Homo sapiens: one gene and its partners. The protein of the gene in region 3 purifies or fractionates together with the protein of the main gene of each other region. This does not show direct contact. Each region holds a gene or a part of one and is shown on either strand. Other genes may lie near its edges.

The links.
Region 1: the proteins of ZNF609 (region 3) and KANSL3 purify together in Homo sapiens (affinity purification with mass spectrometry, with the first as the bait; one large-scale study listed by BioGRID). This does not show direct contact.
Region 2: the proteins of ZNF609 (region 3) and RFPL4B purify together in Homo sapiens (co-immunoprecipitation; one large-scale study listed by IntAct). This does not show direct contact.

What each region holds. Positions count from the first base shown.
Region 1 is NC_000002.12:96,631,789-96,635,438, forward strand, and holds part of KANSL3 (KAT8 regulatory NSL complex subunit 3), read right to left. Parts: intron 1-3,650. UniProt on the Homo sapiens protein: Non-catalytic component of the NSL histone acetyltransferase complex, a multiprotein complex that mediates histone H4 acetylation at 'Lys-5'- and 'Lys-8' (H4K5ac and H4K8ac) at transcription start sites and promotes transcription initiation.
Region 2 is NC_000006.12:112,346,133-112,350,273, reverse strand, and holds the start of RFPL4B (ret finger protein-like 4B), read right to left. Parts: upstream 2,945-4,141; 5' UTR 2,867-2,944; intron 1,082-2,866; 5' UTR 953-1,081; intron 671-952; 5' UTR 566-670; coding exon 1-565.
Region 3 is NC_000015.10:64,673,438-64,677,087, reverse strand, and holds part of ZNF609 (zinc finger protein 609), read right to left. Parts: intron 3,173-3,650; coding exon 832-3,172; intron 1-831. UniProt on the Homo sapiens protein: Transcription factor, which activates RAG1, and possibly RAG2, transcription. Through the regulation of RAG1/2 expression, may regulate thymocyte maturation.

The DNA of each region.
Region 1 (3,650 bases), on a different chromosome or scaffold from region 3:
GTAATACCACCACTTTGGGAAGCCGAGGCAGGTGGATTGCTTGAACTCAGGAGTTCAAGACCAGCCTGGGCAACATGAGGAAACCCTGTCTCTACCAAAAATACAAAAATTAGCTGGGCATGTGGCACACACCTGTGATCCCAGCTACTAAGGAGGCTAAGGTGGGAGGACTGCTGGAACCCGGGAAGTCAAGGCTGCAGTGAGCCATGATTGCATCACTGCACTCCAGCCTGGGTGACAGAGCAAGACCTGGTCTCAAAAATAAATAAATAAATGACAAATACAGCCAGACACAGTGATTCACACCTGTAATCCCAGCACTTGGGAGGCTGAAGCAGGAGGATCACTTAAGCCCAGGAGTGAGCTGGTCTCAAAAAATAAATAAATAAATGACAAATATAGCCAGGCACAGTGATTCATACTTGTAATCCCAGTACTTTGGAAGGCTGAAGGAGGATTGTTTAAGCCCAGAAGTTCAAGACCAGTTTGGCAATATGGCAAAACCCCGTCTCTAAAACAAACACAAAAATTAGCCAGGCATGGTGGTATGCGCCTGCAGTCCCAGAAACTGAAGTGGGAGGATGGCTTGCTTGAGCCCAGGAGGTTGAGGCTACAGTCAGCTCTGATCATGCCACTGCACTCCAGTCTGGGTGACACGGCAAGACCCAGTCTCAAAAAAAAGGACAATATATTCCATAAGCAAGTTGATTTGGCTCAAGCTAATATTTTTAAAAGATCACTTTCAATTTTTGTTTAGTAGGCTACAGCTCAGGAGTGGAATTTAGAAGACCAGCTAGGCAGCCACTGCAGTTGACTGAGATGGGCCAGAAATCATGAGAGCTCGTTTAGGGACAAGAACAGTACAAATGGAGAAAAGTGGCTAACAAGTTGATTGCCTAGATACTGTTCAATACAGTAGGTATAAGCCACACACGACTACTTAAATTGAGGCAGGTGGATCACGAGGTCAGATCGAGACTATCCTGGCTAACATGGAGAAACCCCGTCTCTACTAAAAATACAAAAATTTAGCCAGCCATGGTAGCAGGCATCTGTAGTCCCAGCTACTCAGGACACTGAGGAAGGAGAACGGTGTGAACCCAGGAGGCGGAGCTTGCAGTGAGCCGAGATTGCGCCACTGCACTCCAGACTGGGAGACAGAGCGAGACTCCATCTCAAAAAAAAAAAAAAAAAAAAAATTACTGGGCACAAGGGCTCACAAGGGCTCAGGCTTGTAATCCCAGCACTTTGGGAGGCCAAGGTGGGCAGAACACTTGAGCCCACAAGTTCAACAGTGTGGGCAACATGGTGAAACCCCGTCTCTACTGAAAATACAGAAATTAGCTTGTGGTCCCAGCTACATGGGAGGCTGAGGTGGGAGATCAACTGAGCCTGGGAGGCGGACGTTGCAGTGAGCCAAAATTGCACCACTGTACTTCAGTCTGGGTGACAGAGACCTCGGCCCAAAAAAAAAAAATTTAAATAGAATTAAATATTCAGGCTGGGCGTAGTGGCTCGCGCCTGTAAACCCAACATTTTGGGAGGCCAAGGCGGGTGGATCACCTTAGGTCACGAGTTCGAGACCAGCTTGGCCAACATGGTAAAACCCCATCTCTACTTAAAAAAAACAAAAATTAGGGTGTGGTGGCACGTGCCTGTAGTCCCAGCTACTCAGGAGGCTGAGGCAGGAGAATGGCGTGAACCCGGGAGACGGAGGTTGCAGTGAGCCGAGATCACACCACTGCACCCCAGCCTGGGCAACAGAGCGAGACTCTGTCTCAAAAAAAAAAAAAAAGGCCGGACATGGTGGCTCATGCCGGTAATCCCAGCACTCTGGGAGGCAGAGGCATGCGGATTGCCTGAGCTCAGGAGTTTGCAACCAGCCTGGGCAACATGGTGAAACCTCGTCTCTACTAAACACAAAAAATTAGCTGGGTGTGGCAGCGTGCACCTATAGTCCCAGCTACTTGGGAGACTGCAGCAGGAGAATTGCTTGAATCCGGGAGGCGGAGGTTACCATGAGCCAAGATTGCACCACTGCACTCCAGCCTGGGTGACAGAGCAAGACTCCGTCTCAAAAAAATAAAAAAATAAAAAATTCAGTTCCGTAGTGACGTTAGCCACATTTCAAGCATTCAACAGATACACGTGGCGGCAGTTACCACACTGGACATCCCAGGTATAGAACATTCCTATTATTACAGAGAGTTCTGTTAAACAGTGCTGGTCTAGAGTTTTAAATTCATACAAACTTTCCCTTTCATTAGCAAGTCAACTGGTAGTTATTTAATATATACTGTAAAGTCTATGATTTCCTTTCTGTATGATTATCTAAGACAGATGACCTGGAATGCACATACCTTAGCTACTTAGCTCATTTTGTACAGAGCCTAGAACAGAAACAAATATAAATGAACATCTAAAGGTCTTTCATATTTTAAAATGAGATCTAGCTGGGCATAGTGGCTCACGCCTGTAATCCCAGCACTTTGGGAGGCCGAGGCAGGTGGATTGCTTAAAGTCATGAGTTCAAGACGAGCCTGACCAACATGGTGAAACTCCGTCTCTACTAAAAATATTAGCCAGGCATGGTGGCGGGTGCCTATAATCCCAGCTACTTGGGAGGCTGAGGCAGGAGAATTGCTTGAACCCAGGAGGCAGAGGTTGCAGTGAGCCAAGATTGCGCCATTGCGCTCCAGCCTGGGCAACAGAGACTCCGTCTCAAAAAAAAAAAAAAAGAAAGTAAGAAACAAATCCTAGTGCCCCAAGGGTCCTTCCCCACTTTATGATACATTGCACCAACTTTGTCACCCCAAATACTATGCCAAACAAACTGGTCTAGTGGCTACCTGCCAAACTTTATGTTAACTTTTTGACTTCAGTGACCTTACTGCATCCATTTCCAATGACTGAAATAATTACATCATTATGAAATGAAATGAAATCATGTGCAGCTAGATTTGGTGGTGGGCAAAAGAGCTGATTATCTTCTCCAGGCCAGACATTGAGCTAGTACTTGGATATGTGTAGCTAAAAGAGAACTCTTGATTTCACCATCACAAACCTATCCTCCTCCAGTCTTCCCTAACTCATGGCACCACCCAACTGCTCAAGCCAGAAATCTGTCATCCTAATTTTACCTTTCCCTTTAACCCTGGTTCTTGCTCTTCCTTCCAATTCACCATAGCAGATCCTATTAACCTATTCACTCTACCTATGAAATACATCTCAAAGTCATCTATATTTCTCCATTTGTACTGTTCCTGCCCTATACAAGATATCACGATTTCTGGCCCATCTCAGTCCATTGCAGTGGCAGCCTGCAGCTGGTCTTGTAAGTTCTACTCCTGCACTATAATATACTCAACAAAAAATCCAAAATGATCTTTTTAAAGTATAAATTGAATCTCTAGTTTAAGATCCTTCAGTGACTTCTTACCACTCTTAGAATCAAATTCCTTCACGAGGTAACCCTTGCCAACTTCTCCCTACCTCCCACTTATACCCCTACTGCTATTATATTCTGGCCACACTGGCCTAAAAGAGTTCTTACAGCATGCCAAATTCTCACTTTCAGGGTCTATATTTGGAGACAGAGATTATAAAAGGAAACAATTTTCTAAGTACCAAAAGAACCAAGTCCACAGAAT
Region 2 (4,141 bases), on a different chromosome or scaffold from region 3:
TTGCTCCTGCCTTCATGCTGATCCAGAAGCCATGCTCAGGGAATAAATCATTGCTCTTTCTGTCAGCCGGCTCCTTGCAGACGCCCAGGGACCATGACTTCACCTCTCCCACTTCAACCTCCCAGTAATGTTGGCCGGAGGAGAAGCAGGGAGTACCCAGGACACAGGCCAGCCTGGGATCTTTTGTCAGATCGTGGTGGATCTTCTTACACTGAGCGCTTCTTAGATCATTGGAGAAGACAAGGAGGGAGCTGGCAGTGGCTGCATCCAGGGTCACATCCTCCCGAAAATGCCGGAGCTCCTCCCTCACGTGCAGACTTTGCTCAAGTCGGCTATTGTGCTGCTTGGTCATAAGTGTTAGGACGCTCACTTGCCATTCTTCCAAAGCAGGTACCTTCACCACGTCTCGACACAAGGGGCACATCGCTCTAAAATCATGGTTTTCTAGTATATACCTCTGGATGCAATCAAAGCAGAACACGTGTGTACAAGAGAGAGAAATGGAACAGGAGAAAAAATCCAGGCAAACTGGACAGGACAACTCTGCTTGCAGGCGTTTGGCCATGGTTCTTAAGGGTTACTCCTTAGCCGTGAAGTAAACTGAAGTGATCCTTTATTGGCTTCTGGAAGCACTTGGGAGCCCTCAGTACACAATCCACTCTTCAATAGTCTAAATCCAAGATTAAATAATATAAATTAATAAATAAGTTATTGGCATACATAAATGAATTATATTATTTAATAAATAATAATAAATTTATTAACTAAGAAATTAAGAATAACAAAAAAATAATATTTCTGCAGTTTGTGTATGAAAGTGACACTAAATTGCTAGAGAATCACAGTAATGTAGTCATGGTGATAAAAATGATTTCGAAACTCTTCAAACTCTAGATAATCACAAGACAGAAATAGGACAGTGGAAACTTTCTTTTCAGACAGTGCAGCTTACCTAGTCTGAAGACTTCCAGGTGATGTGTTGGCTGCTCCGGCCAAAGTTTCTCCTAATGGGGGCTGAATTCAAGTGGGTCTTTAACAGAATCTCAGTATAGTCTCCACTCAGTATTTCTTTGTAGATCCTCTGCAGTTCAGGAAAAAGAATGTTCATGTCTAAATTCAATAATGAAAATAAAGCCAATTCTACATTAATCATCACAGAAAAGTGACTCTAAGGAATCCTCAGAATTTCCAGGAAAATTACCACATGTGAGTAAAGCCAGCAAAATCCACTGCAAAATGAGAAGCCCATAAAAGAATCAAGTTTAAGGACAAAGTGTTATTAGATGAAATGCTTTAAAGCACTCTAAGAAAACTAATTAAGGCTTGAATTAATGTGAATAAAAATATAATAGTCATCAACTTCTCCAAAATAATCATGCCTGAATACAAACCAAAAAGATGTTCCAGACAAGGAAGATGCCCTCCTGTTACCCCAACTGCTCCCAAAGCTTGAGAGCCTCTGGTGCTCCCAGAGGACTTCCCACCATGGCTATTATTCTTTGAGTGAGCTGTCTCTGACATGCTGGGCACAGCATATTGGACCAGGCTAGACCCATGACCCAAAGACAGCCTCGCAAAGCTGGACAGCACCTTTGAGATTATGTGAACAGAGGACTGTTCTCCAATAAGAGCCTGCACTGAGCAGTAACTAGCAGAACTCCTTACCAAGAACCCACAAATCACACATTCAGTGGTGACAGTAGTAACAGAATGAGGGACAGAAAGAGGAGCAGCATCAACATTACCAGAGAGAGGAAGTGATGAACACCGATGAGGCCAGCCTAAGACTGAGTTACTAGAACTGTCCTACATCCCAGAACACATTCTCTAATCTCTTTCCAACAAATACTTATTGAGCCCCTTCTGTGCTCTTGGCCTCAACTGGACTCTGGAAACACAAACGTGTGTAATAAACAGGGTATCTGCCCACATAAAACTTTGTCTTCCAAGTCCTGATCAGCATTCCAATCTCATGGTGCCTGGCTGGCGGACAACCAGAGATTACCTCTTTCTTAAATTCTGTTATCTTTTTCAATTTAATGGGAAATTTAACATGGTGCTGGAAATCTAATTGCCTAACCCACCTTGGAATGTATCTAAGAAAACAATTTTACAAAAGAAAAAAAATGCTACACTTATTCACAAGTTGTTCATTTCAGTGTTAACTACCATCCCAAATGATCAGGAACAATCGAATTATCTAACAATAATAAAATGATTCAGCTAATTATGACACAACTACTAAAAGTGGCCAAGTATATTTAAGTGAAAACCCGAAGTGAAGTCTTTTTTTTTTTTTGAGACGGAGTCTTGCTCTGTCGCCCAGGCTGGGGGTGCAGTGGCTCCATCTCGGCTCACTGCAACCTCTGCCTCCCGGGTTCAAGCAATTCTCCTGCCTCGGTCTCCTGAGTAGCTGGGATTACAAGCATGTGCCACCACGTCCGGCTAAGTTTTGTATTTTTAGTAGAGACGGGGTTTCACCATGTTGGACAGGCTGGTCTCTTGACCTCGTGATCCACCCACCTCAGCCTCCCAAAGCGCAGGCGCGAACCATGGCGCCCGGCCGAAAACCCAGAAATCTTTTAAGAAATGTTGGAAAATAAAAAGAAACCATTTTAAAACCATTTAAATCCATTGTAGTTGAAAACACATAAAAATACAAGTTCATGCAAAGAGTGACCTGAGGTTCATATGTAAAAATTTAAATGGCAAAGTTATAGTTAAAGGTGAAGAAAGCTCCCTGGCACAGGAAAAAACTAGTTCTTTCTCCTCTAAAATAAATAGTTAAAGGCATTCGAAAACACCAGTTTGTAGCCAAAGACAGAATAGGACATTGGAAATAGCTTAAACAGAAGGTATAACTTACCTTGACTTGGAGACTTCCAGCAGAATTCTAAAAGATCCGAAGCCTACGTCTCTACCTCTACAGACCTCTGCTCCTCTCGGAGTTTCCGCGGAGAGACACCAGCGTTTTTATACTGCCTGGAAAACATTGTCCAACCAATCAGAGTCAGAGGCTCCGCCCCAAAGGTTGTACCACTCTAATCTGAGTAAACTCATCAACCCACCCTTCCGTTTATGATGATGACATTAAAGCAGGCTTCAAATTATATAGTAAAAAAATTCAAAATTTCTTAATAACTCCCTGAATTAGAGTGAATCTACTGCCATCTGCTCTTGTCTCTAATTTCAGAACTCAACTTTAAAAAGCAAAATGTGTTGGAGATCAAATACAGAAATGCACTGCTGAAACCTAATCACCTCGTGGCTAATGTAATCATTGGTGTTCCTATTCCTGATAGAATCATGAGCGGACAGGATCTACAACAGTTTTCATGTCCTTTGACTCAACAATTCTACTCTTAGGGGTACTTACTGGACAGGATAAGAAAGATGGCAGCTAGGCAAGGCTATTGTCCTGTAATTATTAATAATTCCATTTTTTACTCTCAAAAGTGTTCTTGGATGAACGGTAAATTTTATGGTGTCTGTATCGAGAGCAGAAGGAGCAGTAAAAGTCACAACAGAGGAAAGCTAAGACACAAACTTCCAAAAAAGGATTTGGAGGGTGAATGAAGTCCCATTGTAGAGAGGATCGCTGGAATATACGTTTTCCCCAAGAGAGGCTGCATTCTAAATAACCTCTCCTTTCTCAGGCTTCCTGTTCTGCAAGGCCCAACACACAGCTTACACAGCTTTTACTTCATTTTTACCTGGTGCTATCTCCTTTTCTGTGAGTTAAATACTTGCAGGAGCAGGTCTCAAGCGTTGCTGGGGTTTTTTTTTGTTTTGATTTTTGACACAATCTTGCTCTGTCTCCCAGGTTGGAGTGCAGTGGCTCAGTCTCGGCTCATTGCAACCTCCACCTCCCAGGTTCAAGTGATTCTTGTGCCTCAGCCTCCCTAGTAGCTGGGATTACAGGAGGCCAAGGTGGGCAGATCACATAAGTTTAGGAGCTCAAACTTTTTAAATTGTAATCTCAAGACCCTTTAAACTTGAGATTTTAATCTCAAGAATCCTTACACTCTCTTTTTTAATTATTCAAAAATGTCATTTTATTTTTTCTTTCATTTTATTTTGAAATAATTTTAGACACAGAAAATTTGTAGGAATAGTAAAAAGAGATATATTCTTTACCCAG
Region 3 (3,650 bases):
TGGTCTCTATAAAAACATAAAAATAAAAAAAATTACGACTGGGCGCAGTGGCTCACGCCTTAATCCAGGTACTTTGGGAGGCCGAGGTGGGTGGATCACAAGGTCAGGAGATCAAGACCATCCTGGCTAACATGGTGAAACCCCGTCTCTACTAAAAATACAAAAAATTAGCCAGGTGTGGTGGCGTGCACCTGTAATCCCAGCTACTCGGGAGGCTGAGGCAGGAGAATCGTGTGAACCTGGGAGGCAGAGGTTGCAGTGAGCTGAGATTGCGCCAGTGCATTCCAGCCTGGGTGACAGTGCCAGACTCCATCTCAAAATAAATAAATAAATAAATAAAATAAAATAAAAATTGGCTGGGTGCAGTGGCTCATGCCTGTAATCCCAGCACTCTGGGAGGCTGAGGCAGGTGGATTACTTGAGGTCAGGAGTTCCAGACCAGCCTGACCAAGATGGTGAAGCCCCATCTCTACTAAAAATACAAAAAAAATTAGCTGGGCATGGTGGCGTGTGCCTGTAATCTCAGCTACTCGGGAGGCTGAGGCAGGAGAATTGCTTGAACCTGGGAGGCGGAGGTTGTAGTGAGCCAAGATTGCACCACTGCACTCTAGCCTGGGCAACAGAGTGAGACTCCATCTCAAAAAAAATAATAATACTAAAATAAAATAAAAAACATTAAAATAGTTTACAAAGGTAAAGAATCCTTAAAATTATACATCTCTCCTGCTAATCTCAATTCCGTTGAACCCCTGTATAAGGACAGCCCTTATTTGTGAGGAAGATAGACGATTACCATACGGTATTTCCACTTCCTCCCAGGGCAACAGTTACCTGTCGGTACCAGAGTATTGGATCCATCTCTGCCTGTCGACCACACTCAGCACCTGTCTTGGCCTCAGAGGCCTCCTTGCTTAGGTGGCTGGCATCACTCAGCTTCACTTTAAGGCCTTCAGGGGCCTGGCCCGGGAGTTTTGAAGAGTCATCTAACTTGGGAATGATGACTGATTTGGCTGGGTCAGCCCCTGGCTCCTTGGCCTTGCCAGGTCCTGATTTCACCAGGTCTGTCAGGCTGGGGGCCTTGGTGAGAGTTGGTGGAATTGACGGCTTTTGCTTCCACTCTTCCTTGAGTGCTGCCTCCCGCTCCTTCAGGCCCATCTCTGCCTTCTTGTCCACTCCCCGCTGCTGCTGCTCTAAGCTCTGGCGTTTCTGCTGTTCTTCGTACTGCTGCCGGTAAGCCGTGTTAGTGCTCAGAAGGTGGGTGTGGTAACTCTGGTCGCTGTAGCCATAGGGGGGTACATAGGCATACTGGTTGTAGTACAGGGACTGCATGTACATATTGGGACGCTGCTGGATGACCGAGGGCTGCTGACTGGAACTGCTCAGCTCGGGCTTCTTTTCTTCACAGATATCGTTCTTCACTTTCCCTTCTATGCTCTCAGGTTCCTCATCCCTTTTTGTCTTCAGGGCCTGGCTCTCCACTCCTGCCTGGCTGCTGGGGTTCAGAGCCCCAGGGCTGGACTGTGCATAACTTGGAGAATAGTAACTCTCAAAGCCTTGGTAATATGGTGAGTCTTTGCTCTGAGGCTGAGGGGGAAAAAGAGTTTTCTTAGCCCCTTCTTTAACCAACTGTTCGGCGTCCTTTGATTTGACACTGTCTACCTTGCCCTCCCCATCCTCCCCAGCATCAGAGATGTCAGAGTATGCAGGGCTGTTGGTTTTGACTGAGCTGGCTTCAGCTCCATTCTGGGTCACCACATGTAAGGGAGTCAGGGGCTGAGTAGGGGTAGTGTTTTCAAGGCGGCTACTGCCTCCAATGGAAGGGCTGGGGGCATTGTCCGTGAAACTGTAGATCTTGTCGGCTTCAGCCTTGATGCTAGCCAGTCGGCTTTGGTGGGGGTCTGATGAGCCATTTAGGAGCCCCTCCATTTTCATCCCATCTCCTGAAGATTCCCTGAATGGGCTTTTGCCTTCCTCTGCTCGACACACCTTCCCAGGGGTCAGAGGACTTTCAAGTTCCTTTGAAGATTCCTTCTTTTTTTTGTCTTTCTTTTTCTTGTCCTTGGCTGGAGTCAAGGCAGGGTTGACTGTGAAAGGTTCTCCCATAACAGTGGGCTTGGGCTGAATGGGCTTGAGTTGGGGACTGTTGGGCATGGCTTGTGCCACTGTGGCGGTCAAGCCTGAGGAAGAGCCTGGGCTCGCTGCTGTGAAGGTGGCTGTCTGGAAGGTGTAGATTTGCTGTGGGGGGATGGCAGGGGCAATGGGACGGGCTGACTTTAGGCTCTTGGAAGGAATCTTTTCAGGTTTTAAACTAGAGGGTTTTTTACATTTTTCTTTTTCCATACACTTCCTTTCTAAAGAATCAAAGGCATCATTGCTTGTTTCATCCATCACTGAGGGTCCATCATCAGAGCCATCATTGGATAAGGCCCCAAGGTCTGTGTCCCCTTCCCCACTCAACTTTTTCTTACAGAGGCCTTTTGTGCTGAATTTGCTTGAAGGAGAAGGGCTATGGGGCTCTACAAGTCGAACTTTGGGGGTAGCTGAGCGGGCAGGGGACAAGGAACCTTTTTGTGAGACAGATGCACCGTTGCAGCTCCCAAGATCTGCATGGAGAATAGGTTCCTCTCCGTACTCACTGTCCCCATCCGCTTCCGGCTTGCTGTCATCATCTGTATGGGCATGAGCTTGGTGGTACTTAAGTCCATTGATGTGCTTGTACTTCTTGTTGCAGTTTGGGTGGGGACAGTCAATTAGGACGGGGGAGGGGCAGTTTCTGTCCAGAACAGTGGGTTCTACCTTTGTCCCAGGAAGGGGGCCAGTGGCTGAGCCCATGGAATTAGTACGGACACGCTTGCTCCCTTTGGAGTCCTCTGAGCTAGAATTCAGCTCCATGTCTGAAAGGGGTTTGTTTTTCCGCTTATTAGCTGAGGAAGGGCTGGCCTTGACATCCTCAGAAGTGCTGCTGGCAGGTGGGCGGTGCTCTGAAGAATTCTGGCTGCCCCGACGGCCTTTGCTATTGGCTCCTGCCCGGGTTTTGCTGCTGTTACTGGTCCCTTTGCTGTCAGAGGCTGTGGCTGTCTCATTGACAGGTGTATTACTGTTGGGACGCATGCGTTTGCCTCTACCCCGGCCATTGCGCATTTCCAGGTCACTGGTCGGGGAGTCACAGAACCTTGGCAAAGGATAAACACAACAGAATATTATTAAGAAGAGAAAACATCTTCAAAGCAGTTTAGCTGTAGCCTCCAGAACTGTCCAGATGGTGACTATCATTTTCAATGAATATGATTTGTTAAAAGAAATTCTGATTGTGAATTGCACTAAATGGTGAACTCCTGGGATACACGTTAGCTGCAAATTATTCCCAAACATTTACCTCTAAAACCATGCAGAATCTGTTCCGTAAGATAGTCAAGTCAACATTTCCTATATACAGCCATAGTCATGGTTTCAGAAAAGATGTTAGAGATCATACAGGAAATTGAGGCCAGGCATGCTAAATGACTTGTCCAAGGTAACATCACTGATTAATGGCAACATACAACAAGACTCTAGCTCTACTTTTAGCCCAATGCCTTTTTCTTACATACCTCACTATGAAGATATAGAAAGGTAGAACAAAGCACCTATCCATTTAAGAGTTCCCTAAA